3 separate regions of the Homo sapiens genome follow, and all the other regions are linked to region 1. Evidence: fine-mapped expression QTL. A gene starts in region 1. Each other region holds a variant in brackets. All regions are shown on one strand. Distances are between the middles of the regions. Region 1 holds the start of ZNF268 (zinc finger protein 268). Region 2 overlaps ZNF26 (zinc finger protein 26). Region 3 overlaps ANHX (anomalous homeobox).

Region 1 (10,454 bases):
AAAGCAGTGCTAAGAGGGAAGTGGATAGCATTAAATGCCCATATCAAAAAAGCAGAAAGATTACAAATTAACAACCTAACATTACTTCTCAAGGAACTAGAAAAATAAGAACAAACCAAACCCAGAGTTACCAGAAGAAAATAAATAACAAAGGTCAAAGTAAAACTAAATGAAATAGAGACAAAAATGGATACAATATAATGGACCAATAAAACCAAAAATTGGTTCTTTGAAAGGAAAAAACCCTAAAACTGACAACTACTAGGTAGACTAACCAAGAAAAGGATAGAATATCCAAATACACAAAATCAGAAATGAAAAAGAAGACATTACAACTGATACCACAAAAATACAAAAGATCATTAGAGACCATTATGAACAATTATATACTAACAAACTATAAAACCTAGATTATAAGGATAAATTCCTGGAAAATACAACCTCCCAAGATTGAAACATGAACAAAGAAAAACCCTGAACAGACCAATAATAAGGAGCAAGATTGAATCAATAATAAAATATCTCCCCCACCAAAAAAGCCTAGGGTGAAATCGATTCACAGCCGAATTCTACCAAATGTACAAAGAACTAATACCAATTCCCCTAAAGCTGTTTCAAAAAATTGAGGAGGAGGGAATTATTCTTCCTACCTCATTCTACAAGGCCCTATGTTACCCTGATTCCTAAACCAAGGACACAACAAAAAAAAGAAAACTATAGACCAATATCCCTCAAGAACACAGATGCAAAAATCCTTAACTATATACTAGCAAGCTGAATTTAACAGCACATGAAAATGATAATACACATGATCAAGTGAGTGTTATACTAGGGATGCAGGGATGGTTCAACATACACAAATCAGCAAATGTGATGCACTGCATAAACCTAATTAAGGACAAAACCCACACGATCATCTCAATAGATGCAGAGAAAACATTTAATAAAATTCAGCATCCCTTCATGATAAAAATCCTCAAGAAACTAGGCATAGAAGGAACATACTAAAAAATAGTAAAGGCCACATATGACAAATTCACAGCCAACATCATACTGATGAGAGAAAAGTTGAAAACATTCCAAGAACTGGAACAAGACAAGAATGCCCACTTACACTACTGCTATTTAACATAGTACTGCAAGTTCTAGCCAGAGCAATCAGGCAAGAGAAATAAAAGGCATCTGAATTGGAAAACAGGAAGTCAAATTGTCCCTGTTTGCAAATGATATAATCTTATATCTAGAAAAACCTAAAGATGCCACTGAAAAAGTATTAGATTTGATAAATGAATTCAGGAAAGCTTCAGTATTCAAAATCAAAACAAAAAATCAGTAGCATTTCTGTACCCTAACAACATCTAGCTAAGAACAAAATCAAGAAGGCAATTCTACTTTTAATAGCTACAAAAAGCTCACCTCAGAATACATTTAACCAAAGAGGTGAAAACTCTCTACAAGGAAAGTTACAAAATACTGATGATAGAAATTGTAGATGATATAAACAAATGGAAAAACATCCCATGCTGTTCAGAGGAATTAATAATGTTACAATTATCATACTATCCAAAGCCATCTACAGATTCAATGCACTCCCTATCAAAATATCAACGTCATTCTCCACAGATTTAGAGAAAAAAAATCCTAGGCCGGGTGCGGTGGCTCACAGCTGTAATCCCAGCACTATGGGAGGCCAAGATGGGCATATCATGAGGTCAGGAGTTCAAGACCACCCTGGCCAACATGGTGAAAACCCATCTCTACTAAAAATACAAAAATTAGCCGGGCATGGTGGTGCACACGCGTAATCCCAGCTACTCTGGAGGCTGAGGCAGGAGAATTGCTTGAACCTGGGAGGCAGAGGTTGCAGTGAGCCGAGATCATGACCCTGCACTCCAGCCTGGGTGACAGAGTGAGACTCTGTGTAAAAAAAAAAAAAAAAAAAAAAAAAGAGAAAAGAAAAAGAAAAAGAAAAAAAATCCTAAAATTCATATGCAACCGAGAAAGAGCTCAAACAGCCAAAGCAATCCTGAACAAAAAGAACAAAGCTGGAGGCATAACTTCACCTGACTTCAAATTATACTATAAGGCTATAATAACCAAAACAGCATAGTACTGGTATAAAAACAGACACATAGGTCAATGGAACAGATAGAGATCCCAGAAATAAAGCCACATATCTACAGCCAACTGATCTTTGACAAAGTCAACAAGAACAAGCATGGGGAAAATACAACCTCTTCAATAAATGGTGCTGGGAAAATTGGATTGCCATATGCAGAAGAATGAAACTTGACCCTTATCTCTCGCCATATACAAAAATCAACTCAAGCTGTATTAAAGACTTAAATGGAATACCTGAAACTATAAACATACTAGAAGAAAACCTACGGAAAACCCCTCTGGACATTGGTCTGGGTAAATAATTCATGACTAAGACCTCAAAAGCACATGCAACAAACAGAAAAAGAGAGAAATGGGACTTAAACTAAAAATCTTCTTCATAGTGAAATAAACAGTAAGCAGAGTGAAGAGACACTTGCAGAATGGGAGAAAATTTTTGCAAGCTTTGCATACAAGAGGGGACTAATATCTAGAGTTTACAGGGAACTCAAACAGATCAACAACAACAACGAAACCCAAATAATCCCATTAAGAAGCAGGCAAAGAACACAAATAACACTTTACAAAAGAAGACATACAAATGGCCAACAGGCATATGAAAATATGCTCAACATCATCACTAAACATCAGAGAAATGCAAATTTAAACCACAATGAGGCCGGGCGCTGTGGCTCACGCCTGTAATCCCAGCAGTTTGGGAGGCCGAGGTGAGCAGATCACCTGAGATCAGGAGTTCAAGACCAGTCTGGCTAACATGGCGAAACCACGTCTCTCATAAAAAATACAAAAATTAGCCGGGCATGGTGGTGGGCACCTGTAATCCCAGCTACTTGGGAGGCTGAGGCGGGGAGAATTGCTTGAACCCAGGAGGCGGAGGTTGCAGTGAGCCGAGATCAAGCCACTGCACTCCAGCCTGGGCGACAGAGCGAGGTTGTGGGGGAAAAAAAAGAGATATTATCTTACATCAGTCACAGTAGCTGTTATTAAAAAGACAGGCCGGGCCGGGTGCGGTGGCTCACGCCTGTAATCCCAGCACTTTGGGAGGCCGAGGCGGGCAGATCACGAGATCAGGAGATTAAGACCATCCTGGCTAACACGGCGAAACCCCGTCTCTACTAAAAAATACAAAAAAGTAGCCAGGCGTGGTGGCGGGCCCCTGTAGTCCCAGCTACTTGGGAGGCTGAGGCAGGAGAATGGCGTGAACCCGGGAGGCGGAGCTTGCAGTGAGCCCAGATCGCGCCACTGCACTCCAGCCTGGGCGACAGAGCGAGACTCCGTCTCAAAAGGAAAAAAAAATCAAAACAAACAAAAACAGGCCGAGCTCGGTGGCTCATGCCTGTAATCCCAGCACTTTGGTAAACTGAGGTGACCGGATCACCTAAGGTCGGGAGTTTGCGACCAGCCTGACCAACATGGAGAAACCTGTCTCCACTAAAAATACAAAATTAGCCGGGTGTGGTGGTGCATGCCTGTAATCCCAGCTACTCAGGAGGCTGAGGCAGGAGAATTGCTTGAACCTGGGCGGAGGTTGCGGTGAGCCGAGATCGGGCCACTGCACTCTAGCCTGGGTAACAAGAGCAAAACTCCGTCTCAAAAAATAAAATAAAATAATAAAAATAAAAAGACAAAGAAGATGTTGGTGAGGATGTGGAGAAAAGGAAACTCCTATACACTGTTGGTGAGAAAGTGAAATTAGTATAACCTATGGAAAACAGTGTGGAGAATTCTCAAAGAACTAAAAATAGAATTACCATTTGATAAAGCAATCCTGTTACTGAGTATCTACCCAAAGGAAATCATTATATATATAAAAAAAATACCTGCACTCATATGTTTATCACAGCACTATTCACAATATCACAGGTATGGAATTAACCTAAATGTCCATGAATGGATGAATAAAGAAAATGTGTTATATATACACAATGGAATACTATTCAGCCATAAGAAAGAATGAAATTGTCTTTTGCAGCATCATGGATGGAACTAGTGGCCACTATCTTCAGTGAAACAACTCAGGCACAGAAAGAAAAACACATGTTTTCACTTTAAGTATGAGCTAAAGGATATGTACACATGGATGTAGAGTGTGGGATGATAGACAATGAAGACTCAAAAGGTGTGGGGGGGTTTCAGGGATAATCATAAATTACCTGACTGGTACAATGCATATAACGTACTATAGGGCGTGGATACCTTAAAAGCCTTGACATCACCACTACACAACTGATGCATGTAACAAAATTACACTTGTACCTCATAAATTTATAAAAGTTTTTAAAAGCCAAAAACAAAAGAATTCTAGAAAACTTGTATCTGCCTCTGTGAATGTCACCTCTTCCCAATACTTAAGATCAATAATGATTAGTGGATATTTTCCGTTGGTGCAAAAGTAAGTAATTGCGGCTTTTGCCATTAAAGTAAACCAATATTTTCCAACTGGCCAATACATGATGTTACGAAATCATGCGTGATAAAAGAATCCATTCAAAGTGCAGTGTAGACCAACGGATTTTATGTAATAGAGTAGAAAAAGTTCATCTACGTGGTTTCAGATTGTACACTAACAAAACTATCCCTTGTTCGACTTGTATCTTTATATACTTTAACAAAAACAACATACGCAACAGATTAAACATAGAAGCAGATATGAGAATCCAGCTTTCTAGTAAGTCAGAAAAGACTTAAAAAGCGAAGCCACTCCTTACTAAATTTTTTCTTTTGTAAAATATATGTAATTTTCATTAAAATATTATTTATGTTAACATGTAATGGGAATTTTACGAATCTGTTATTAAAGTGTAAAGCAAAATAAGACTTTTACCATTTCAGTAAAGCAGGGACTAGAACACTTGTAACCTAATTTACATCCCTCCAACCGTTGAGCCATTGGTGTCAAGTATTTTAATTCTCTTTAAAATTTAAAACCTGCAAGCGCGGGAGCTCAGGGACCTGGCCAGGAAGGCCTGAGCTTCCGGGTCATCTTAGCACGCCCCCTCCCGGTGGCCCTTGGCCGGAGCCCTCCGGCGCGGGAGTAACTCCTCGCAGAGGCCTCTGGGAGTTGTAGTTTTTTTGCCTTTGCCTCTCCATGACGCAATTCCTGTGCGACATACGTAGCGGCCGCCATTGTTCCGCGCCGATGGCGAGATCCTTGTTCCTCAGATAGCGTTCATCGCCCGTCGTGGTCAACGGGCCAGCCGAGTCTGGAGTGGTTGCGAACCCTTCTGGCTGCAGATCTGGAGGTGGAGGCAGTACCCTGGACTCTATTCTGCTGCCCCTTCAGGGTTTGGAGGAGCCGGAGGTGCGGAATTCCTCCGGTTTCAAGGCGGCGGGACGGGACAGAACTAATCTGCCTTAGCTCTCTCCTGCTGCTGACCCGGGGCGGTTGCCTGACCCTAACCTGTGTGTTGGTGAGGGTGTGGAGATGGTGAATCCCGTGCTGTGGGAGGGAAGGAGCCTCAGCTCCGAGAATGGCAGGCAGCCCTGGTGCCTCGGACCCTCCCCCTCTGGGTTTGGGGACTGCTGGGTGACCTCTTTCTTCACTGTGCTCTCTCTTCTAGCATCCCTCGCGTCCTGTCACTTCCAGCGAGGCACACAAAACTGACCGTAGGGATGGCCACCAGGGTCCGGACAGCTTCTATTTGGGTGAGTAGGGGTTTTCTTTCATTCTTGAAAAGCTCTCCCTGAATGCCAACGTGTGCGCACTCCATCTACTCCAGTCTGAATTTGCCAGGAGCTTTCTCACCCCACCGCTCTTTTAGGCAACTGGATCGTCATTTATAGCATGTTAGACTTTCCAGAAATGCTTCTTGTCATCCGACTTCCTTTTTTCCTCCTTTCATCAATCTCTTTTCTAACAACTTTGTACGCTGAACTTTGGAGTTAAACAAGGGATACTCACACATCTTTCAGTTTTTTCAGCCTTTATTTACTGAGGGCCTTCTGTATCTGGGATCTTTAAACCTTATTTTGGAAATTACAAACTTTTTTATTCACTTGTTCAACATTTTTTTTTATTGTATTTTGTTTGCTGGACCCTGGGGCAGGTGCTAAAAATGCAAAGATGGGTTGCTTATCATCCCTGTCTTGAAGAACAGTGGTCTAGGAATGGTGGATAAGAAAGACAATGACAAGTTAATGAGTGCTCTGGGAGCAGGCTGTGGAAATACACGGAGACATGCAGGAATGGGTCAGTTTTGGAAGTAAGGACACCCCCTAACCCCTTACTCCCAAATGCTTCAATGATTAAGAGATTCTTAACCTTAGGTTTGAAAGATGACAAACCTAAAGTAGACAAAGGATTAAAACCAGCCTAGGAAAAAGAAGTAACGTGCAAATTTGAGAGGCTTGAAATGACCTCATGTGGTGAACTTTGGGCACTTTAGGGTTGCTAAAATGTTGAGTTTAATGGTGATAGTAGAGTTATATTAAAAAATGAGGCTAGAGCCGTAGGCCTAAGATCATAGAGGGCTTTGAGGACCCCATTAAAAACTTGGATTGTATCACATAGGGCAGGTGGTCCCCAACCCCCACGCTTCAGACTGGTACCAGTCTGTGGTCTGTTAGGAACTGGGGTGCATGGCAGGAGGCGAGTGGCGGTTTAGTGAGCATGACTGCCGGAGCCCCGCCTCCTATCAGAGGCTGCATTAGCTTTTCATAGCACAAACCCTATTGTGAACTGCGCATGCGAAAGATCTAGGTTGCGCACTTCTTATGGGACTCTAATGCCTGATGATCTGAAGTGGAACAGTTTCATCCAGAAGCCATCGCCGCACCCGACTGCCCGTCCATGGAAAAATTGTCCTCCACAAAACGAGTCCCTGGTTGGGGACTGTTGGTATAGGGGAAGGAGTTTACTTATTGAAGTGTTTTCACAACGGATTTGAGGGTAGAACAGTCTAGTCTGCAGCAGGTAAGAGAATATAAGGGTTTAAGTAAATTAGTGGTTTTGAGAAAGGAGAGGAGGTGGCTGGGTGCAGTGGCTCCCACCTGTAATCCCTGTTACTCGGGAGGCTGAGACAGGAGAATCGCTTGAACCCAGGAGGCAGAGGTTGCAGTCAGCCGAGATCGCGCCACTGCACTCCAGCCTGGGTGACAGAGCAAGACTCTGTCTCAAAAAAAAAAAAAGGAGAGGAGGTAAAGAGGCAGAAGAAATTAGATTTCATAACTAGTTGGGTGCAGTGCTAAGAGAGGCAGAAAAGCCAGGGATGACAACTGGAGTTCTACTCTGTGGGCCTGGTTGGGAGTGTCACCATTTGCTGAGTAAGGGAAGACTGTCAGAATTGTGATTGGTAGAGGGGGAAGATTTCAGTTTTGTATGGATTGGCTCCTCTAGGTAGAGGTTGCAAATTAGGTGTGGCCAAAGTAGCTCAGGGAGAATGTGTACCCTAAGAAGAGAACTGAGGACAGTGGTCAGGGAAATGACAAGAGAAAGCAGGGGAAGAGGTGTTGAAGACTGAGATGGAACCCAAGAAAAGTAAGACAAAATAGAGACATGTAATTCACACTTAAAGAAATGGAAACCTCAAAAATGCTTGTCAAGTGACATGTATGAGGGAGATCAAGTAATATTAGATCATTGTCTTAGTCTGTTTGTGCTACTGTAACAAAATATCACAGACTGAGGAACTTATAACAGATACTACTTTCTCACAATTCTGGAGGCTGACAAGTTGAAGATCAAGGTGCTGGTGAATTTGGTATCTGATGAGGCCTGCTTTCTTGTTTTCTTTTTTTTTTTGGAGACAGTCTCTCTCTGTCCCCAGGCTGGAGTGCGGTGGCGCGATCTTGGCTCACTGCAACCTCTGCCTCCCGGGTTCAAGTGATTCCCCTGCCTCAGCCTCCCAAATAGGACTACAGGCGTGTGCCACCACGCCCAGCTAATTTTTTTTTTGTATTTTTAGTAGAGACGTGGTTTCATTGTGTTGGCCACAATGACCTCGATCTCCTGACCTCATGATCCACCTGTCTCAGCCTCCCAAAGTGCTGGGATTACAGGCGTGAGCCACCGCACCCGGCTCTGCTCTCTGCTTTCAAGATGGCACTTTCTTGCTACATCCTTACATGGTGGAAGGGGGCAAAAAGGGAAGAATGCTGTGTCCTCACATGGCCAAAGAGATGAAAGGGCCAGGCAGCTCTCTGAAACCTCTTTAAGAGGGTATTAATCCCATTCCTGAAGGAGAGCCGTCATGACTTAATCACTATTAAAAGGCCGCACCTCTTTATTTATTTATTTATTTGTTTATTTTTTTGAGACTGAGTCTCGCTCTGTCTTCCAGGCTGGAGTGCAGTGGCTATCTCTGCTCACCACAACGTCTGCTTCCCGAGTTCAAGTGGTTCTCTTGCCTCAGCCTCCTGAGTAGCTGGGATTACAGGTGCGCACCACCATGCCCAGCTAATTGGCCCCACCTCTTAATACCATCACAATGGGGGTTAAGTTTCAACATGAATTTTGGAGGGATGCAATCATTGAAACCGTAGCAGTCATAAAAACCTAAATGGAATTTAGTGGTGATGGGCTGTGTGTGGTGGGTCACGCCTGTAGTCCCAGCACTTTGGGAGGCCAAGGTGGGCAGATCATCTGAGGTCAGGAGTTCGAGACCAGCCTGGCCAACATGGCGAAACCTCGTCTCTACTAAAAATATGAAAATTAGCTGGGCGTGATGGTGGGCACCTGTAATCCCAGCTACACGGGAGGCTGAGGCAGAAAAATCGCTTGAACCCCAGGAGTAGGAGGTTGCAGTGAGCCAAGATCACGCCACTGCACTCCAATCTGGCGACAGAGTGAGACTCTGTCTCAAAAAAAAAAAAAAAAACAAAGAATGTGTGGTGGCTACTTTAGCTTGGGTGCTCAGGGAAGGCCCCCACTGAGGAAGTGACGTCTAAGCTAAGTCTGAGTTACAATAGCAAGCCAGCCTTGGGAAGAGCAGGTAGAAGAACATCCAGGATGGGAACAGCCAGGGCCAAGGCTGCGAGGCAAGAGAAGTTTGATGCCTTGGTAACCTGGAAGGAAGGACTTTGTGACTGGGGTAGGGAGTGAGAGAGAGGAGAGCAGATGAACACAGGTGCAGAGGCCAGATCAGGGAGTGAGAGAGAGGAGAGCAGATGAACAGAGGTGCAGAGGCCAGATCAGGTAACCTGGAAGGAAGGACTTTGTGACTGGGGGTAGGGAGTGAGAGAGAGGAGAGCAGATGAACACAGGTGCAGAGGCCAGATCAGGCTGGGAAGCCATGGGGCCCGGGAGAGTGTGTGGCGCTAAGACAGGGAGCAACGTGAGCTGCTTAGGGTTTCCAAAGACCCTTCTGAGTGCTGAGTGGGGGACAGGTTGTAGGTGGGCAAGAGTAGGCACAGAAAGAGGGGGAAGCCAGAGACTGACTAGGTGACCACGTTCAGACAAGAGGTAGCAGGGATTTTGTGTAGTGTGGTAGAAATGGAGACACTGGTCAGAGTTGGGGGATGTTTGAAGGTGGAGTCCTCTTTTCTAAGAACCAGCATATGCTTTTTATCTTGTTGATTGTCATTTTGTAGTGTGGTTTATTTTCATTAAGTATTCCTGGTTTTATGTTTTGTTTTGTTTTCTTTTGCCGTTTCAACCAAATGTTAATGCTCAGTGTCTACTACGTATGAGGTTCTGTGCTAAATCATTTATTAGGTATTATCACCTTAAAACTTCACAGTAGCCCTAGCCCCAGGTGGTGAATACTGTTTTTCTCCTTTGATGGGTAAGGGTACTGAGGTCCAGAAAGGGCTAGTTGGAGACCAGGTGGCACCCCTGGTCAATGTAGAGCCAGGACTTGAACCCAGATATTCTGGCTCTACATGCATTTTCCTGGCCTGTGTACCTTATTTAGTCTCTGGATGTAGGTTGAGGATTTCTTGAGGCAGAGATTCTAGGATCCTAGACCCTGAAATGTAGAGTAAAATGTGGAGCGGGTAGACTGTGCCCAGTGTACACAGAGAAGGCTCTGAGACATAAGCTGTTGGTCTCCAGGGAATAATCTTTTTTTTTTTTTTTGGAGATGGAGTCTCACTCTGTTGCCCAGGCTGGAGTACAGTGGCACTCACTGCAACCTCTGCTTCCCAGGTTCAAGCAATTCTCCTGCCTCAGCCTCCCAAGTAGCTGGGGCTACAGGTGTACGCTGCCACGCCTGGCTGATTTTTTTTTTGTATTTTAGTAGAGACGGGGTTTTACTGTGTTGCCCAGGCTGGTCTCGAACTCCTGAGTTCAGGCAACTCACCTGCCTCGACCTCTCAAAGTTCTGGGATTACAGGCATGAGCCACTGCGCCCAGCCTCCAGGGAATAATCTTAATGTCCATTAATGGTGAATGATGA
Region 2 (10,454 bases), 170 kb before region 1:
TTGCATGTATAAATGTTCATTCCCATCTACAAGATAGAAAGTTTCTTGAAGACAGAACTGGATTTTATTCATCCTGAAATCTTCAGGACCCAAGAGAGTACCGGCAAATAGAAGCTCCTTGATTGATTTTTTCTTTCTTTCTTTTTTTTTTTTTTAGATGGAGTCTCACTCTGTCGCCGAGGCTGGAGTGCAGTGGCACGATTTTGGCTTGCTGCAACCTCTGCTGCCTGGGTTCAAGTGATTCTCCTGCCTCAGCCACCTGAGTAGCTAGGATTACAAGTGCCTGCCACTGCGCCCAGCTAATTTTTGTATTTTTAGTAGAGACAGGGTTTCACCATCTTGGTCAGGCTGGTCTTGAACTCCTGCCCTTGTGATCCACCCGCCTTGGCCTCCGAAAGTGCTGGCGTGAGCCACCGTGCCTGGCACTCCTTGATTGATTTTTAATTCTCTCACAAAGTAAATGCTGAACCAGCCACAGGAAATAGTTGGTAGAGGAACATTTATCCCTTCCCAGTTCCTCTGCATCTTTTCCATGTCACCTAATGTAATTGCATCCAATTGAACAGGGTGTGTGTTATTTCAGGGATTATTGTCATTCAAGGATATATCTATGGAGTTCACCTGGGATGAATGGCAGCTACTGGATTCTACACAGAAGTACCTGTACAGAGATGTGATATTGGAAAACTATCATAACCTGATATCAGTGGGTAAGTACTGCGTCTCAATGTTACTCAGATAGTGAATATTAAATTGCCATCCCTTTTTTTGTTGTTGAACTACTCCGGGATCTCTGAAGTGCTTAATGATTATGAACTTGAACTTTAGGGGTCAAATTTCCTTAGTCCCTGTTTGTCCCACACTTCCTAATTGTAATCTTTCCCCAAGTGAGATGAGCAGTTTTGCTCTGTAGCTCTTGATTCCTCGGTCCTGTCCCTAACAGCCTGGTCCCCACCCTTTGTGATTTCCCATCAACAGGGTATCATGGTACCAAGCCTGACTTAATCTTCAAGTTGGAACAAGGAGAAGATCCATGGATAATAAATGCCAAAATTTCCAGGCAGAGCTGTCCAGGTGGGTGAGTGAGAAAGAGGAAGGTGGGAGGCATGGGAGTGAGCTGATGAGTACCTGAGGAGTGGGCACTCACAGTGTTGTCTTCAGAAATGCTTCTGGAAGTCCTTGAGCTATTGGAGCTGACTCAGGATGAAGCCAGGAGCTCCTCAGATAAGGACATCGCCGTCACTCTTCATATATTTGGGTTTTTCTTCCCCCTTACTGTTGAGAGGCAGGCATGCCCCTCTTTCCTGAACTCTGCTTCAGGTTTGCTTTTGGGTAAGTTTCCGTCCTCCCCATGGTCATGGGTTTTATTGGGCATCGAGACCTTTAGAGGATTTCTTTTTCCCCTCACTTGATGTGGCTCATTGCCCTCTATTTCCATTTCTTTTATTTCCTCCTTTGCCTTCCACAGTTAAATCCCCTAGACTTGACTCACAGTCTTGGCCCTGGTGTCTCCTATATCTTTGAGTGACTTTACACACCTTATACTTCCCTTTTGCGTTGTCCAGAGGGGTATTTTTTCCCAGTTTGGCTCTCCTCTCCGAATGTTGTAACTGTCGAAAGGCTCTTCCGTTCCGAAGGTTTACGCTTTCCCCCCAGTGTTGTAACATCAAAATTGACGTCTTTCTCTTTGGCACTTGAGTCCTGGGTTTTACCTGCCTGTGGGAGCGCTACCCCACGCTTTCCCAGACTTTACTCTCAGTATCAGAAATGGGGATTTCCTTCTAAAATTACCGTTCTTCCTCAAAAGAAATGGCCAGAGTCCTTCATTTTCTTTCACAAGTTTCTTTCTTAGTGTTTCCATCTCTAAGGAGCAGTGCCATCTTGCCGTTCAAGCTGTTGACTCCTCCCCTTCTCTGCTCCCACATCTAGTCCCTTAGCAAACCATCTTAGTTCTCTCTCCCGTATGTTCCAAATTTCCTCAACTCCAGACATGTGTTAGGCCATTCTTTCATTGCTATAAAGAAATACCTGAGACTGGCTGGGCACGGTGGCTCATGCCTGTAATCCCAGCACTTTGGGAGGCCGAGGCGGGTGGATCACAAGGCCAGGAGATGGAGACCATCCTGACTAACATGGTGAAACCCCGTCTCTACTAAAAATACAAAAAATTAGCGGGGTGTGGTGGCGGGCGCCTGTAGTCCCAGCTACTCAGGAGGCTGAGGCAGGAGAATGGTGTGAACCCAGGAGGCGGAGCTTGCAGTGAGCCGAGATCGTGCCACTGCACTCCAGCCTGGGCAACAGAGCGAGACTCCATCTCAAAAAAAAAAAAAAAAAAAAGAAAAACACCTGAGACTAAATTTATAAGAAAAGAGGTTTAATTGGCTCAGAGTTCTGCAGGCTGTATGGGAAGCATGGCAGCCTTTGCTTCTAGGGAGGTCTCAGGTAGCTCCGGTCATAGTGGAAGGCAAAGGGGGAGCAAGCACATCACATGGTGAAAGCAGGAGTAAGGCGGGGCGGGGAATGTGCCACATACTATCAAATGACCAGATCTCACAAGAACTCACTATCGTGAAGACTGCACCAAGCCATGAGGGATCTGCCCCCATAATCCAGATGCAGGCACCTCCCACCAGGCCCCACCTCCAGCACTAGAGATTCTAATTCAACATGAGACTTGGGTGGGGACAGATACCCAAAGTATATCAAGAACTGTAGTTCAAATTATTATCTCATTCTGGACTGCTACAATAGCTTCCTAAAGTATTTCTCTGTCCTTTTCTTACTTTTTACAGAACAGTCAAACTGATCTTTTAAATGCAGAAGATTGAGATTTTCTGTAATTAAAACCTTTAGGCTGGGCACAGTGGCTCACACCTGTAATCCCAGTACTGTGGGAGGCCAAGGCGGGCGGATCGCTTGAGCTCAGGAGTTTGAGACCAGCCTGGCCAACAAGTGAAACCCCATCTCTACTAAAAATACAAAAATTAGCTGGGCATGATGGCATGTGCCTGTAGTCCCAGCTACTCAGGAATCTGACATGGGAGGATTACTTGAACCCAGGAGGTCGAGGCTGCAGTAAGCCAAGATTGCGCCACTGCACTCCAGCCTGAGTGAAAGAGCAAGACCCTGTCTCAAAAAAAAAAAAAATCTTAAAAATATGAACAACTTTTTGCCATGGATTTGAATAATTTGGTTCTGCTTTCATTCCATTCACTCAGTGGGTTTTAGCTTTCCTGGCCTTTTTCTATTTCTTAAACCCTGTCAGTCAGGCTTCTTCCTCAGGAACTTTGTACTTGGTGTAGTGGCGTGATCTCGGCTCACTGCAACCTCCGCCTCCCAGGTTCAAGCGATTCTTCTGCCTCAGCTTCCCTAGTAGCTGGGATTACAGGTGCCCGCCACCATGCCTGGCTAATCCAAGTGCCAATTTTAAACCTCTATTTTAAAAAGTATTTTTGATTACTGGTAATTTGCTACCAGTTTTCACGACGGGACCTGTTTTGGTTTGTTTTGATTCAGTTCCCTTGCCCCCATGCTTGGCCAGTATTTCTTTTGAACCAGTGTGGTAGGCTTGTTACCAAAAGAGAAAGGTTGATTACATCACAGTCCTAATACTGTTTAATTCCATATCAGGTTTATGTTATGATTCAAAAAGTTATATTTTGTTTGTTTTTTTGTAGATGGCTGGGAAGAATGGTACCAGAACAATCAAGATGAGCTTGAGAGTATTGAAAGAAGCTATGCTTGTAGTGTGTTGGGAAGACTTAATCTGAGCAAAACCCATGATTCTTCAAGACAGAGACTCTATAACACACGTGGAAAAAGTTTGACACAAAACTCAGCTCCAAGCAGAAGTTATTTAAGAAAGAATCCTGATAAGTTTCATGGTTATGAAGAACCATATTTTCTTAAGCATCAAAGAGCTCATAGCATAGAAAAAAACTGTGTGTGTAGTGAATGTGGGAAAGCTTTTCGTTGTAAGTCACAGCTCATTGTACATCTCAGAATTCATACAGGAGAGAGACCTTATGAATGCAGTAAATGTGAAAGAGCCTTCAGTGCCAAGTCAAACCTTAATGCTCATCAGAGAGTTCATACAGGAGAAAAACCCTACTCATGTAGTGAGTGCGAGAAGGTCTTCTCTTTCAGGTCACAGCTCATTGTCCATCAGGAAATTCACACAGGAGGGAAACCCTATGGCTGCAGTGAATGTGGGAAAGCCTACAGTTGGAAATCACAGCTTCTTTTACACCAGAGAAGTCACACAGGAGTGAAACCGTATGAATGCAGCGAATGTGGGAAAGCCTTTAGTTTGAAGTCTCCATTCGTTGTACACCAGAGAACTCATACAGGAGTGAAACCCCATAAATGCAGTGAATGTGGGAAAGCCTTTAGGAGTAAGTCCTATCTCCTTGTTCACATCCGAATGCATACAGGAGAAAAACCCTATCAATGCAGTGATTGTGGGAAAGCCTTCAATATGAAGACACAACTCATTGTACATCAGGGAGTTCACACAGGAAATAATCCTTATCAATGCGGTGAATGTGGGAAAGCCTTTGGTAGGAAGGAACAGCTCACTGCACATCTGAGAGCTCATGCAGGAGAGAAGCCCTATGGATGCAGTGAATGTGGGAAGGCTTTCAGCAGCAAGTCATACCTTGTTATACATAGGAGAACACACACCGGAGAGAGACCCTATGAATGTAGTTTGTGTGAGAGAGCCTTTTGTGGAAAATCACAGCTGATTATACATCAGAGAACTCATTCAACTGAGAAGCCCTATGAATGCAATGAATGTGAAAAAGCCTACCCTAGGAAGGCATCACTTCAGATACACCAGAAAACTCATTCGGGAGAGAAACCTTTTAAATGCAGTGAATGTGGAAAAGCCTTCACTCAGAAGTCATCTCTCAGTGAACATCAGAGAGTTCACAC[C/T]GGAGAGAAACCATGGAAATGCTCTGAATGTGGGAAATCCTTCTGTTGGAATTCAGGGCTTCGTATACATCGGAAGACTCATAAATGAGAAATCAGAATGATGCAATGTGAGAAACTGATGTTCAGGAGACTTCGGATAATATAGACAGGATTTACAAGCAGGAGGCCCTAAAATTACACTCATGTCAAAAATCAGAGAGGAGAGAGACCAACCATATTTGGGATGAGTGTAAAAGCTTTCAGAAATAAGTTACAAATCTTTGTAGATGAAAATAATGGAAGGAATGTGGAGCAATAAATGTATCAAATGTTGTAGTATCATCATGAAGATTCAGAGAATTTACACTAGGAACACCTTATAAGTTGAATAAATTAAGGAAGCATTTTCCCATTGAAAGTGTGTTCCATGGAAAGTCACATTCCAGATTTGAAGCTGTGTTTTTGTAAAATAAAATCTTGGTATGAACAGTTGACTTCATGGTGGAGTATAAAGTTGTTTTTTTAAAAATATGTAAATAATGTTCAGGAAAAACGCAGGGAACAGAGTCTTAAAGTTAATGGATATTTAATGTGACTTTCCTGAGTTAACACTGAATAGTATTTCTAAAATTTTTTGTACTTTATTTTTTAATGTAACTTGTTCTATCTATCTATATATATATTTGATAGTTTGTGGAATAATATCCCCCAGTATTTTCCATATTAAATGCTAATTATCTTTTGATTTCTTTTTCATAAGCAGATCTGGCATTTATTACAGGGCTGCCGCTTAAGAGAACTCATTATAATGAACGTTTATTATATTTTGCAGTTCCATGCCTGTTGTCCATTGATTGACATGAGCACCCCTGTTTTCTCTGGAGAAATACCTCCCCTCTCTGGGGTGCTTCCTGTGGTAGTGTCTTTCAGGTATCCGTTCCACTAGCTACAGGTGAGCATTTTACCCATTGTTGGATAATGGTAATCTCTTTTTCAGAATTTTGAGTCTGTAATTCATTTGTACATGAACCAGAAAATGTGGGAACTCATTCATTCTTGTCCCAGAATTCTGTTGAGAACATCCATTCATTCTGGCTAATTGATTACAAGAATAACTGTGGATACGATCCCTTTAGAACCTGCTTCTCTGATCTGTGTGTTTCCTCACTTCTCAATAAAAATGTCTTTTGCTTTTTGTTGTTTGGGTTTTTTTTTTTTTTTTTTTTTTTTTTTTTTTGAGACTAAGTTTCACTCTTGTCCTCCAGGCTGGAATGCAATGGCATGATCTCAGCTCACTGCAACTTCCACCTCCTGGGTTCAAGCAATTTCCTTGCCTCAGCCTCCCAAGTGGCTAGGATTACATGCCTGGCTAATATTTGTATTTTTAGTATAGACGGGGTTTCACCATGTTGGCCAGGCTGGTCTTGAACTCCTGACCTCAGGTGATCTGCCCACTTCAGCCTCCCAAAGTCATGGGATTACAGGTGTGAGCCACCGAGCCCGGCCAGCTTTCTATTTCTTATAACCTAAGGGCTTTAACTGATCAGTTGTTGCCTTGGTAGCATGTAGTTAACAAAGTGGGGTATATGATTTAGGTTTGTTTGTTTTTCCTGAGACAAGAAAATCACATTCTTGTTTATATTTGAAGATAGCAACTTTTAGCCATCATGTGAAATATGGTTATTGTTTCTGTACACCTGGAACGTTGTAGTGCCTGATACTGAAATTTTGGAAACACTGAAGAATTATAGCATTATAAGAATTTTAAATTTATGAGAAAATCTGAGACAGGGGCAGAGATGGCTGATTTTGATCTTGCTGGATCTTAGACCATGAGAATGACAGGCCTGAAGCCCTGAAATCTCACCTCAGGGTGGAGTGTCAGACTTGGCAACTTTGACATTGCTGAAAAAGTTTCTTACAGCTGTAGGAGTGAGGTGGTGGGAATCAAATAGTATATTTGGCTTGGTGAATTAAAGTCAGTTCACCTCAAATGTTTACTAAATCCCTTAATGTAAACATGTGTTGAAAAAGTTATCCTCACCCTTCCCCCCCTCAAAAAGTTATCCCTTGATAATTTGAATAGGAATATCTGGGAAGAACCTGAGGACTCAGCCTAGCAAGCTCTTGTGATAGACTTTGAATAGCAGTATCTGCGAAGAACCTGAGGCCTCAGCCTAGCAAACTCTTCTGATAGACTTTGAATAGGAATGTCTGGGAAGAACCTGAGGACTCAGCCTAGCAAACTCTTCTGATAGACTTTGAATAGGAGTATCTGGGAAGAACCTGAGGACTCAGCCTAGCAAACTCTTCTGATAGACTTTGAATAGGAATGTCTGGGAAGAACCTGAGGACTCAGCCTAGCAAACTCTTCTGATAGACTTTGAATAGGAGTATCTGGGAAGAACCTGAGGACTCAGCCTAGCAAACTCTTCTGATAGACTTTGCACTGCAGATGCTTCATTTAAGGCTATAGAGTAGATGTTGGCAATATATAAAATTCAAACTTGAGTGTCCATAAATAACTGTTGTTGGAACATGGCTAAATATATTTGTGTATTATTTGACTGCTTTTGCACAGCCATGGCACAGTTGAGTAGTTGAGGTATAAAAAACCTGCCACCTCCTGATACAGATAGAACCCCTTCCCTTTTCTGGGAAAATGTGGAATTTGCCTTGCAGGAGGAAGCTTATTCTGCCAGTTCCCCATGGCTTATTTTTACCAGTTTGGTAACAATAATCTACACTAAACATGCCCTGGGATGGGATTGCTCATTTAGGAAAATATGTAGAATTCATAGAGCATTGCAGGAATGAGTAATGTATCAAAACTTCTCAGCATGACAACACCCAGGGCAACGTGACAAAACCCTGTCTACAAAAGTTTCTTAAAAGCTGGTTACAGCGGTGCACACCTGCAATCCCAGCTACTCAGGAGGTTGAGGCAGGAGGATCACTTGAGCCCAGGAGGTCAAGGATGCAGTGAGCTGCACTGTACTCCAGTCTGGGCAACAGTGAGACCCTGTCTCAAAAAAAAAGTTGGGGGAGGGGGTAGATACTTGTGAAATCCTTTGAGGGTGTTCAGTGAAGGGCAATTACTTACAGCATATACTTGGTGCACTGACACCCAGCAGTGATGATGGTTTTGCTTTCTGTTTTTTTTTTTGTTTTGTTTTGTTTTTTTTTTTTTTTGAGACGGAGTCTTGTTCTGTCACCCAGGCTGGAGTGAATTGCACAATCTCGGCTCACTGCAACCTCCGCCTCCTGGGTTCAAGCGATTCTCCTGCCTCAGCCTCCATAGTAGCTGGGATTACAGGTGTGTGCCACCGCGCCTGGCTAATTTTTGTATTTTTAGTAGAGACGGGGTTTCACCACGTTGGCCAGGCTGGTCTTGAATTCCTGACCTCAGGTAATCCACCTGCCTCGGCCTCCCGAAGTGCCGGGATTACAGGCGTGAGCCACCATGCCTGACCATGATGATGGTTTTAAAAGTTAGCTGTAGCAGCTAAGGCAAGACCAGATCCAACACTGGCTTATGGCAAGGGGAAGAACAAAAGTCAGGAACTTTGCCATAATCTAGAAGAAAGAATGATAATGCTTTGTGACATGCTGGATTGTATCCATTATGTGTTCCTAAGACCCTCAGCCCTCTCCCTCCACCAAGACCCAATAAAAGTGTGTTATTGAAAGTAGTAGCTACTGGCCGGGCGTGGTGGCTCACGCCTGTAATCCCAGCACTTTGGGAGGCCAAGGTGGGTGGATCACAAGGTCGGGAGTTCGAGTTCAGCCTGGCCAATATGGTGAAATCCCGTCTCAACTAAAAATACAAAAATTAGTCGGGCATGGTGGCGGGCGCCTGTAATCCCAGCTACTTGGGAGGCTGAGGCAGGAGAATCGCTGGAACCCGGGAGGTGGAGGTGGCAGTGAGCAGAGATTGCGCCATTGCACTCCAGCCTGGGTGACAGAGTGAGACTCTGTCTCAAAAAAAAAAAAAAAAAGAAAAGAAAATGACAAACACATGTTCTGTGTATATGACACAATCCTAACTGTGGCATGTATCTATGTCTTCACTTGCATCGGCCTCAATTATCAACTTGTGGCAAAAGAATAAGAAAGAGAACTAAAAAATGAAAAAAAATAAGATGCTTTCCTATGGTCCCAGCTACTTGGGAGGCTGAGGCAGGAGTGTCGCTTCAGCCCAGAAGGTTGAGGATGCAGTGAGCCATGATTGTGTTTCAGCCTGGATGACAGGGCAAGACCTCATATCTGTAAAAAGTAAAAATAAATAAACAAACTATATAATAATAATACAGAAGACAAATGTCAATGTTGCTGAAAAGCCAAAAGAAGCCAAGAGGACAGTCTTCTGAGTAGAGGGCATAGGAGTTCCCAAAGAGGAAAGTCCAGTCTGAGATCAGGCTGGAGGCCAAAAGGAACTCTTGACCTGAGACAGTTGGAAATATTACTTCTACTGGCAAATAAAAGTGCTTCAAGCAGACGTTTATTTAGAAATTCATGCTGCATGTTTATTGATGGAATGTTTGTGTGACTCTTTAATAGAAGTCTGAACTAGGTATGCCATATATTTCCATATATCTTCATTTGTCTTGGGGGTAAGTGTTGAGAGAAGGAAGTGGCTTTTGGTTTTGTGAGTGTCTTGAAGATCTAAGGTTTATTGTGAAAAAGTGTAGGGGTAATTTTTTTTTTTTTTTTTTTTTGAGACAGAGTCTCACTGTGTCACCCATGCTGGAGTGCAGTGGCGTGATCTCGGCTCACTGCAACTTCCGCCTCTGGGGTTCAGGTGATTCTCCTGCCTCAGCCTCCTGAGTAGCTGGGATTACAGGCACCTGCCACCACACCTGGCTAATTTTTGTATTTTTAGTAGAGATGGGGTTTCACCATTTTGGCCAGGATGGTCTCAAACTCCTGACCTCAGGTGATCCACCCGCCTTGGCCTCCCAAAGTGCTAGGATTACAGGCATGAGCCATCGTACCCGGCCAGAGCATCCTTAATTTTTAAAAACAATTTAGCTACTTTTTTTTTTTTTTTTTAACTATTTTAAGAGCATCACAGTAAAAGGAAAATAACAGCTCACTTTGGGGCCAAAGTCTAAAATTTAAAATCAGCCCTACTCTGGCTGGGTGCAGTGGCTTATGCCTATAATCCCAACACTTTGGGAGGCAGGAGGATCACTTGAGCTCAGGAATTTGAGACCAGTCTGGACAACAAAGCAAAACCCCATCTCTGAAAAAAAAAAAATACCCCGGGATGGTGGCTTAGGGCTGTGGTCCCAGCTACTCTGGAGGCTGAGGCAGGAGGATTGCTTGAGCCCAGGAGGTTGAAGCTGCAGTAAGCCATATTTGTACCACTGCACTCCAGCCTGGGTGACAGAGCAAGACCTTGACTCAAAAAAAAAAAAAAATTCTACTCTCTTGGTATTTGTAATATGTTATGAGATACCATCATTGGAGGTTGTAAGGATGGGAATATTAGTTGAAAGTCTGATATTTTATCATTGAGTTGCCCTTTTCCAATTTTA
Region 3 (10,454 bases), 37 kb after region 1:
GGGATTACAGGCTTGAACCACTGCACTTGGCCTCCATATTTTTTATAATAGCCACTCTAACATGTATGAAATGGTATCTCATTGTGGTTTTGATTTTCCTTTACCTAATGGCTAGTGATGTTGAAAATCTTTTCATGTACTTCTTGGCACTGGATTTGGCAATGATTTATTGGATATGACACCAGAAGCATGGGAAACAAAAGAAAAAATAGGTAAATTGGACTTCACCAAAATTGAAAACTTTCGGCATCAGTGGACACTATCAAGAAAGTGAAAAGGAGCTGGGTGTGGTGGCTCACGCCTGTAATTCCAGCACTTTGGGAGGCCAAGGTGGGAGGATCACTTGAGGTCAGGAGTGCGAGACCAGCCTGGTTAACTTGGTGAAACCACGTCTCTACTAAAAATAAAAAAAAAGAGAAAAAAAAAAGCCGGGTGTGGTGGCATGTGCCTGTAATCCCAGCAACTCAGGAAGCTGAGGCAGGAGGATCGCTTGAAGCTGTGAGGTGGAGGTTGCAGTGAGCCGAGATCATGCTACTGCACTCCAGCCCAGGTGACAGAGCAAGAAAGCAAAATTCCATCTCAAAAAAAAAAAAAAGGCCGGGTGTGGTGGCTCACGCCTGTAATCCTAGCACTTTGGGAGGCTGAGGCAGGTGGATCACGAGGTCAGGAGATCGAAACCATCCTGGCTAATGTGGTGAAACCCTGTCTCTACAAAAAAATACAAAAAATTAGCCAGGCTGGTAGTGGAAGCCTGTAGTCCCAGCTACTTGGGAGGCTGAGGAAGGAGAATGGCGTGAACCTGGAACCAGTGAGCCCAGATCTCACCACTGCACTCCAGCCTGGGCGACAGAGCGAGACTCCGTCTCAAAAAAAAAAAAGGTGAATATAGGAGAAAAGACACTGTAAAATAATATACCTGATAAGGGTCTAGTATCCAGAACATATAAAGAACTCTTACAACCCAACAACAAAAAGACAACCCAATATCAAAATGGGCAGAGGACTTGAAGAGACTTTTCTGTAAAGAAGATATGCAAATAGCATATGAAACGATACTCAACATCACTAGCCATCATGGAAATATAAATCAAAAATACAATGAGATAACACTCCATACCCATCAGAATGTCTTATTATTTTAAAAACAAACCAGAAACAAGTATTGACAAAGAAGTGGAGAAATGTGAACACCGCTGTAAAATGGTAAAGCTGCTATGACTGACCCTTGCTACAACGTGGAGGAACCTCAGAAACATTGTGCTGAGAACCCAGCACAAGGCCACACACCTGTAATCCCAGCTACTCGGGAGGCTGAGGTGGGAGGGTCGCTTGAGCCTGGGAGTTCAAGTCCAGTCTGGGCAGCATAGCAAGACTCCATGTCTACAAAGATAAAAATAAAAGCAATGTGCAGAAAGAGGCTGGCCACAAAAAGGTCACATACTGTATGATACCACTTATATGAAATACCCAGAATGGGTAAATCCAAAGAGAGCATATTGGTGGTTGTCAAGGGTCGGAGGGAGGATGAAATGTGTGACAGCTGCTTAATGGATGGAGGATTTCCTTTGGGGTGATGAAACTATTTTGGAACTAAGAGGTGGTGGCTGCACAATGTTGTGCATGGACTAAATGTCACAGAAATGTACATTTTTAAAAGTTAATTTTATATTGTGTAAATTTTACCTCAATAAAAAAATCTAGTCCACAGCATTCCCTCACCAGGGTCAGCCCTCTTAGCCTCACATTTAAGTCCCTCCATAGCCCAGTGCTGCCTGGGCCTGGCCAACCACATTCCAGACATGTGCTCCAGCCACACCATCTGCCAGCTCCTAAACCCATGGCTGTTTCATCATTCCAGGTCCAGGTCACCTTCTGATGCCTTCACAGACACTAAGTGATCAGCAGTGCCTCCTTAGGGCACACAGGGTCTTTTGAAACTTGCATTGCTGGAATTCATAGCTCGGCACGTGGTATCCAAGGGTTGTCCCATTTCAATAAGGAGAAATCAGTGTTTTCTGACCATCACCATGCAGCTATCTTGCTCAGGTGACTCACAGCTATCTGCTAGGTATGGCTAGTTCCTTGTGCAGAGGGGAGGGCCAGGCTCAGGTGATTGAATGATTCACCTGCAATCACACAGCCTCCAAGTGAGGTTCACACTCAGGTTCCAGCCCAGAACCTCGTTTCCAGGTGCCACTCAAAGTTTGTGAGTCACATGAACCTGTGTCCAGGCCACACAGCAGAGGTAACCCAGCTGTGGGGGCACTTGTCTGGTCATGAGATGGCCCAAGTCCCACGTGAAGCCTCATGAGCCACACAGACCCTATCATAAATACACCAGCCTGGGGCTCCCCAGAGGCCAGCTCCAGGAAGTGGAATCATGCTAGTATTGTAATATTTAGTTAGAACTGAGGCCACCTGCAACTCGCTGCCATCTACACCGCTTCCACTCTCTGGTTGCTAACGATCAATGCTAGGGCCTGCCTCAACCCTGATGATTCAGCTCCACTGAAGCTCCCCAGAAACCTCCGGGGCTCTGCAGGCAAGCAGAGTGGGAGGGATGTTATCTGAGTCAGAAGGGGCTTTTGCCTTTGGAGGCCTGGGACTGTACGACTTTCTGCCCAGGTCACAGGAGGTATGGGAGCCCCCATGAGAGGTCCCTTGCTGTGGTTCACCGTCCAGAGAAGGACCAGCCTCTGGTTTTTCCTGCCTTCAAAACACCAGCACCTCAACCCCAGAACAGTCTGGATCCAGCCCTTACTGGGCAAGGGATCCCAATGCCAGCCCCAAACCCAGCAGTTAGGCCCTCCTGTGAACTGCCTGGAGCACCAGGTACAAGGATGGGGCACCCTGGGAGGGGCCATGATTACTTGGCACCAGCAGGGATATGGTGATCACCAGCAGAGACAGAGACACTGCTGGGGTTGAATTATATCCCCCAAATTCATATGTTCAAGTACTGACCCCCAGTAGCTGTGAATGCGGCCTTATATGGAAATAGGGTCTTTGCAGATGATAAATGTGAGATGAAGTAATTAAAGCCAGCCTTAATCCACTATGATTGTGTCCTTATAAAAAGGGGGAATTTGGACACAGACATGCATACAGGGAGGAAGGCTACTGAAGACTGAAGCTTCAATGTCACAAGCCAAGAAACAAGTAGAACTGGGGAGAGGCCTGGGGGCAATCCTTTCCACTCTTCAGAAAGAGCATGACTCAGTCTCCTGGATTTCCCAACTCGGAGACAACAAATCGTTGCTCTAAGCCTCTCAGTTTGTGGTGCTTTGTTACAGCAGCCCTAGGAAAGGAACACAGGCATGCTCCATCCACCACTCTCTCCAGACCACAGCTGCCTCCCAAGCCCACCCGAGAGGGTGAGTCAGGGAAGTAGGGCTCTTCATGGGCCACCACTGCTATTGGGTGGTCATTTCCACTCTGTCTGGAAGTCCTGGTCTCAGTTCTCAGTCTCCTGGTGCTGTTTTAGGCTCTACCTTGCTGTCCCTGGGGCTGCACCTGAGCCTCCACCCCTGTCCCTGGGGCTGTCCTGAGCTTCTACCTTGCTGTCACTGGAGCTGCCCTGAGCCCCCACCTCGCTGTCCCTGGAGTCCAGAAAGCCCAGGGCTGGCCAAACCCCACCCCTCATACCTCTCTTGGCCCCTCCTCCCAGCCATCAATCCACTGGAACAGCCATTATGTCCCTTCATTCTCTAGACAGGTGCCTCAGGAAGGCACAGAAAGGGGTCACACCACTTGGTCATGGTGCCTTACCTGTGTCCACTGGACTCAGGCTGGTCCTTTAATGGGATGAGGGCAGAACAGGCTGTGGGGCCACATCCCATTGTCAGAGAGGCCAGGGATAAAGCCAGAAAGGAGACAGGGGAAGGAAGGGCCTGTGGGCAGCAGTTCCTCCTCATAGGTGCTGAACAGAGAAAGTGAGGAGCCTCCAGCCTCCATCCTGGCAGGACCATCAACCACTGGTAGAGATCCCCTTTTGGGAGGTCCAGTCCTAGCCAAGGGCCAGCTCCAGAGACTTTGGTCCATTTTCTCTAGAATGGACATGATACAGCTGTCTGAGTCAGGACTCTAGAATGTTCAGGACTGAGCCCTGCTGAGGACAAGAGGGAACAACATGCCATGGAGATCCTTGTGCAGCCTGGGCCTCTGACTGTGACCAGCTAGCACCCAGTGCCTCTTTGCTGGGTCTCTGGGCCCTGCTGGTTGCAGGAAAGGCCTCAGCCCAGGGATGGGATGGGCCCAGGCTCTGCGTGTTTCCTGGGAGGGCCAAAGGGTGGTGCCTCCCATAGCAGCCCAAAGCACAGTAGTCACTGCTGCTGCTTCTGCCCTGAGTCTGGGGGAGCCGGCATGTGGGGAACATGGGGGCTGGTTCTCCTGCGACAGGGAGGCAAGCAGCTGTGCCCTCCACTCCACACCACCCTGTTGGCAGCACATCCTTCAAGCTCAGGGTTGCTGGGAAGCTGGTCCCAGTGCCCTCCTGCTTCTCCTCCAGGCCTGGGGATTGCCAGGGATGCATGGGGCCACAGGTGAGCAATGCAATGGTTGCCAGACACCAAGGCTCCTGTTCTCTTTGCCACACTACCCCATTCCCTCCCTATCACAATGCTCTTCTGCAACCTCCGTCAAGATTCTCCTGTTCTCCCGACCCCCACCGTCAGATCTCCCAGCTATGGCTCCTCCTTCTGTTCCACCCATGACCCCACAGGAAGGTTGGTATTTGTGCCTTTGCCTCTCACAGAGCAGCTTGGGAGCTCCTGAGAGCAGGGCCAGAGTCTGACTTCTCTGGGTTAAGGGCTACTGATCTCAGCCCAGACCACATGTGGCTCTCCCCTGAGATGGGCACGTGGCCAGGTGAGCACAAGGTCACAGACACTCCAAAATCCACAGTCCACACCTAGGGCTACCATAATCGACCCAGAAATTCAGCTTCCAGGAATTTATCCTAATAATAGCCAGGTGAAGGGCAAAGGGCAGAGGGCAGGGTTGCCCACGCTAATGCTGCATATAAAACAGACACACTGGAAACTGTCCAGATGTCCATCTGTCGGGCACTGCTGCATGATTAATGTACACCCACATCATGAAACACTGGCCCCGGGTGGAAAGGCTGATGTTCATCTCTGTACTTTGACATGGACAGATGCCCAGGATACATGGTTAAGTGAATACAAGGGGGGAGTTCAAAACATTAAACTTTAATTGACTACAACATTTGTGTCATAGACACAGTGAATTACAACCTGGAGGGAAAATCCACCCTACTCTGCCCTGCCTAGGCCATTCGCAGACAGGTTTGCCTCCCAGTACTCAAGGGAGAAGCCCCTACACACAGAAATCTCAGAACACTCCTCATACCTCACTCAGTTAACTTGGTGGAAAAGTCTGGCTGTGTGCACGGGCAGACGGCAAGGCAGCCAGCAGCAGAACACTCCCCTCTCTAGAATGGCCTTCTCTGCACGAGTGCCCCGGAGCCCGACTGATCCAGTGCTGCGTGAGTGGGACAGACCCACCTTTGACTTCTGATCTCACGAACATTTCTCAAATGCTTTCTCTACTACAGGGAATTGCTAACCAAACTATTCAAACATGGCAGTGGGAAAGAATCTCTGCTTTTCAGCAGAGCCCCCAGGGGAACTCTGGGGACCTTCATTTTGTATTCAGGATAAAGCTCTGTAACTCCTTGTGTTGACCAGG[C/G]AGACCATCCACACCCGCTCCTCCTGGGGTGCTGTCTGGCTCCTGGGGATAGCTCAGCCCAGGCTGCTCCCTGAAAACTCAAGGAGCATCCTGGCTCCCCAGAAGGCATCACCAGAGGCCTGGCTATCAGAACACTGCACCTGGAAGACAACACAGTGGTAAACACAGAGGCTTCCTTTCCAGGCTCAAGACCTGCCCTCCCACCTGGGCACCTCCTGACCTTGGGAAGACCCCCCGCAACCAGTCTGGACTCAGGAGGGAATGTTGCCCCACAGCATCCCTCACCCCAGCTCCCAGTCCAGTAATGTCCAGCCACAAATCATCTTTGCCCCTTGTTTATCTTTGCCTGGTGTATTCACTCCAGTGGCACTAGCTGAACCCTCCTCAGCACCATGAGCTGCAGATCCAGGAGTAAAGAGGGAATCCTTCAGTGCTCATAGGGAAGCCTCACCTGGCTGGAGGGCAGGGCCTGGCTCAGCTCCATGGCAGACACAGGGCCGGGGAAGGCAGATGGGGCTGGGGCCAGCTCTGGAGGGCTGGAAAAGAGACAGTGTAAGAATAGGCCCTATCTCAAGGGGACACTGGGGTGACAAAATCCACCCAGCTGTGCTTTCTCCCTCATCAGGAGACATTCTAGTACTTGACACTCATCAGAACAGACTCTCTTCCTGCAGGGCTGTCACGTATGTAGGGTGTTAGGAGGGGAACATGTTACACAGAGAGCAGGGTCACCCGGTGGGTCATAGGGGCAACTGCACAGAGGGCTCAGAGCAGGGTCATGGAAGAGCCAGTGAACAGAAATGTGGAGGAAACAGAGACCTCAAAGGAGGAAGAGCCGGGATGCACGGCACAGTCACTCAGGACAAGGGGCGGTGGTTCTTCAGCAAGGTCAACGCATACTAGCATGTGACATGGCCACGGCACTCCTGGGCATGCACCATGAGAAATGAAGGCAGGTGTGCAGACTATACACATACAGGATGTTCACAGCAGCTTTATCTGTGATGCCCCCAAATCCCCATCCACAGGACAAGGGTGAAGAAGCTGTGGCACATCCACGCAATGGCACGTGGCTCCCCAGAGAGAGAAAGAACTGTTCACGCATCCAAAACATGGTGACTCTCAAAGTCGTCATGCAGAGCGAAGGAAGCCAGACCACAGCAAAACAAAGACCCGAAAATATACCGTATTTACATGAAATTCTATAAAATGCAGCTAATCCTTAGTGACAGAAGCAGATCCATGGTCCTGGGTGGCCAGGGAGAGGCGAAAGGCAGGAGGAGGGTACATTGAAGACCTTCATCACGGTGGTGGCCTCGTGTGGATGTGAAAGTCACACTGAGAAAATTCAGGTGCTCCGTCTACACATGTACAGCCAATTACACCTCAATGAAGCCACTTTTAACGAAGGAACTGATGTTTTCAGGTTGAAGCATGGCCTTCAGATCGGAACAGGGAGGCATGGGAGTTGGGGGAGCAAGAGAAGGGGTCGAGATGGCCATGTGGAGAGGTGAGGCGAGACACACAAGGGGACACCGTGGCCATGGCAGCCTCTGCCTGGTCTCAGCTCCCAGCCATGAATGGAAAAGTGAGTCCATCTGTGTGGTGTACATTTTCTCACAGTCAGGCTGTTTGAGCAAGCAGGCCATGTGATTTAGGGGCTGCTCCGCCTTTTCTCCTATGTCCCTCTGTAATTCTGCCCTCACTAGCATGAGCCTTGAGTCAACCTGGTTGCAGCTCCCTGATGAGGGAGACCCCACAACCTGGGGATCTGCTCTGCTCCTGGAGGCCCTAGTGTAGAGAGGATGGGGCGTCTGCTAGAACAGGAGTGGCGGGTGCGATAGCCTCCCCACCAGAGGACCCCAGGCCACCCTGCCCCAGTCCTCCATCCCTCCTGTCTCTGCAGGATCCCACCTGCTGGGCTGGCCCCGAAGGCCCTGGTCATCTTCTGTTTCTACAGCACTGACACTATCAACAGCAAGTGCTCACGGACGCTGTTCAAGACCCCAAGTCCCTTGAAAACTACAATTCAGAATATAAAATCAGGATCTTGATTCTGCCAGAAACTGACAGTGTTTGTTCAGGGAAAAGAAAGGCTGCTGGGGTCCAGGGTGATTTGGGGGTAAGGGTGAACCCTGATCATGTCCAATGCATGGGATGCCCACATCTGCTCTGATGTTTTGGGCTCTCCTGAGAGAAAAACTACCCTTTTCTTCATAGGTGTAGGCTTGTGGGGACTGTTACAGTTTTCAGCAATCCAAAGGAGAGGACCCTATCTGCACAGTCCGGGACGGTGAGTCTATAAACTGGGCATTACCCTATCTTGTGGCCTGTGGAAAGGACTGTCCAGGCCTGTGGCTCTTCAGGGCTTACCTCTGGGTGAGGATGAATTCAGGAGCTTGCAGTGGGGGCTGTGTCACCAGGAAGCTGCCCACCCGTAGCTCTGTCCGTCCACTGCTTGTGCCCAGACCCTCCTCCAATTGCACGCTCTGGGGATGGCCGCTGGGGGGGCCAGAAAACCCTGCATGTAATGAGATTCCACGGCACACTGGCAGGAGAAAGGAGCAGAGCCCACGTGTGACACAACCAAGACCTCAAAGCACGGAGGCGGATGCAGCCTCCGGCCCAGCCAGCCCGCGCCACGTGAACCAGACTCACGGTCCCTGGGCCTCAGTCTCCCTCTCTGAGGAAGGAACTGTCACAACCATTGATCTCAACAGCCTTCCAGGCTTCCAGAGACCAAGACACGGTTGCTTCTGCTGACTTTAAATGCTGCTGTCATCGCAGACCTCATGTGCCCTCGGTGCCAGTCAGAGTCTGCAGCTTGCTCCGTCCTGCTGGTGCGGAAGGATGTGCCAGGAGCCCTCAGTCTCCTCTTGTGGCTGGTTCACGGAGTGCTTGGCCACCAGCCCTTGGTGGTTTCCACTTTTACCTCTTACTAAGGTTACCAAGATGTCACTGAGGTATAAGCTGTCACTAGTTTCCCCTCCCTTTGACTTTCCAGAGCGTATCTCAGAACATCTCTCACTCTTAGACAAGCTACTGTGGTTTTGGTCAATTCTGGGTGGACATTTAGGAGAGCTGTGGCCTGAAAAGGCAGGTTTTTTCCTGCCCTGAGTCTACTAGGCTGTAAAACAAGCATTAAGATGGCCCTGATCTCAAGACATGGAACAAGCGGCCTGGGGGTGAGGCTCATGTGGTCCTCCTTCCTGTACAGCAGAGTGACCACCTAACCTGGTGCCCAGCTGCCCAGGGCCTTCTTAGGTTGAAGGGACCTTCCTGACCATGTGCCTGCTTTCTGCTATTTCCTCTTTCATGCAGACCTTACAGACACTCTGGAGAGAGGAAATAATGTTCAAGCACTAGTTTGGACATTCTAGTTCCATCCATCATAGTACAGCAATAGATTACGCATTCTCTTTCCAAGAGAAAGGGAAAGCCATGAGCACAATGTCCACAGTCGTGCAGTCAGGACGCAAGTGCAGCCCATGGTGATGGGGTGTCTGGCAGGGAGCTGGGGTGTGGGGCAGGGGCTGAGATTCCCAAGGAGCTCGGGAGGGAGAGCATCCGGGTACCCAGGCAGCAGCAGGGAACCCGAAGGCAGGGGTTTCAATAGACAGAACAAAGGAGTTCGCTGATTCCCACAGAACATCCCCCCTCACTTGAGCAGGCTCCAGGTCTGAAGACCAGCTCCTCTTGTCCCAATGTGAAGACACCCATTGACCGTCCCCACGCCAGCCTCGTCAGTAAGTACAGACAGGCAAATGTGAGTGTCCAACAGTTAAATAAAAAGGACAGCAAAAAATGGAAGGTCAGTATGATCAAACTGACAAGCCCTCTCCTGAGGCGCGAGCCCTAAGATCCCTTCTTCTTTCTGGCCCTGCATCAAGGAAGGGCCAGAATCCACAGTCCCAACAGTCCTGACTTCAGACAGTGAAGCACATTTAAAAAAATTATTATTAGGAACCTTAGAGAAGTGTAAGATATTGCATCCATAGAAAGTAACAATCTATGAAGGAAGAAGAGTTCAGAGATCAGTAAAGAAGGATTGAAATTCTCTTAAGATATACAGCAGTTGGCCGGGCGCAGTGGCTCATGCCTGTAATCCCAGCACTTTGGGAGGCCGAGGCAGGTGGATTACTTGAGATCAGGAGTTCGAGACCAGCCTGACCAACATGGTGAAATCCAATCTCAACTAAAAATACAAAATTAGCCAGCATGGTGAAACATGCCTGTAATCCCAGCTACTTGGGAGGCTGAGGCAGGAGAATCGCTTGAACCTGGGAGGCAGACATTTCAGTGAGCCGAGATCGCACCACTGCACTCCAGCCTGGGCAACAAGATCAAAACTCCGCCTCAAAAAAAAATATATATATATATAACTGTTAAAGCAAAAAATCAGAAGACAGAATTTAAGAAATACCCAAAACGCACATCAATAAAAAAATACAAGATAAAAGGTAAGTTCTTTGGGAGACTGGTCCCGGAGTTCCAACATCCAAATAACATTTGTGCTCTGAAGAGAGAGCTGAAAACATGGAAGCAGGAACTTATCAAAGATACGATCAAAGGATATTAGAAAAAAATGCCCAGAGCTTACAGGAGACTTTATTCTTTTTTTTTTTTTTTTTTGAGACGGAGCCTCACTCTGTCACCCAGGCTGGAGTGCAGTAGCGCAATCTCAGCTCACTGCAACCTCCACCTCCCGGGTTCAAGTGATTCTCCTGCCTCAGCCTCCCAACTAG

The links. PIP is the estimated chance that this variant, and not a neighbour inherited with it, causes the effect.
Region 2: its variant is the best candidate, but not a certain one, in a credible set for the expression of ZNF268 in whole blood (INTERVAL, PIP 0.63).
Region 3: its variant is the best candidate, but not a certain one, in a credible set for the expression of ZNF268 in nasal epithelium (TOPMed, PIP 0.70).

Annotation. Positions count from the first base shown.
Region 1 is chr12:133,176,265-133,186,718 of GRCh38, forward strand. ZNF268 (zinc finger protein 268) reads left to right here and starts at 5,231. Exons shown (of 6, transcript NM_003415.3): 1 at 5,231-5,422; 2 at 5,682-5,766. The coding sequence starts at 5,734. RefSeq lists enhancers at 4,949-5,473, 5,069-5,378, 5,419-5,618.
Region 2 is chr12:133,006,459-133,016,912 of GRCh38, forward strand. ZNF26 (zinc finger protein 26) reads left to right here. Exons shown (of 4, transcript NM_019591.4): 2 at 584-710; 3 at 979-1,074; 4 at 3,678-10,454. The coding sequence ends at 5,023. Among named protein-coding and RNA genes, the nearest start is that of ZNF26, 25 kb to the left of the region's middle. The variant C/T (reference allele first, on the strand shown) is at 4,936.
Region 3 is chr12:133,213,123-133,223,576 of GRCh38, forward strand. ANHX (anomalous homeobox) reads right to left here. Exons shown (of 10, transcript NM_001372060.1): 8 at 8,083-8,230; 9 at 6,161-6,245; 10 at 5,190-5,849. The coding sequence ends at 5,763. ZNF268 (zinc finger protein 268) reads left to right here. Exons shown (of 6, transcript NM_003415.3): 6 at 1-1,710. Among named protein-coding and RNA genes, the nearest start is that of ANHX, 18 kb to the right of the region's middle. The variant C/G (reference allele first, on the strand shown) is at 5,710.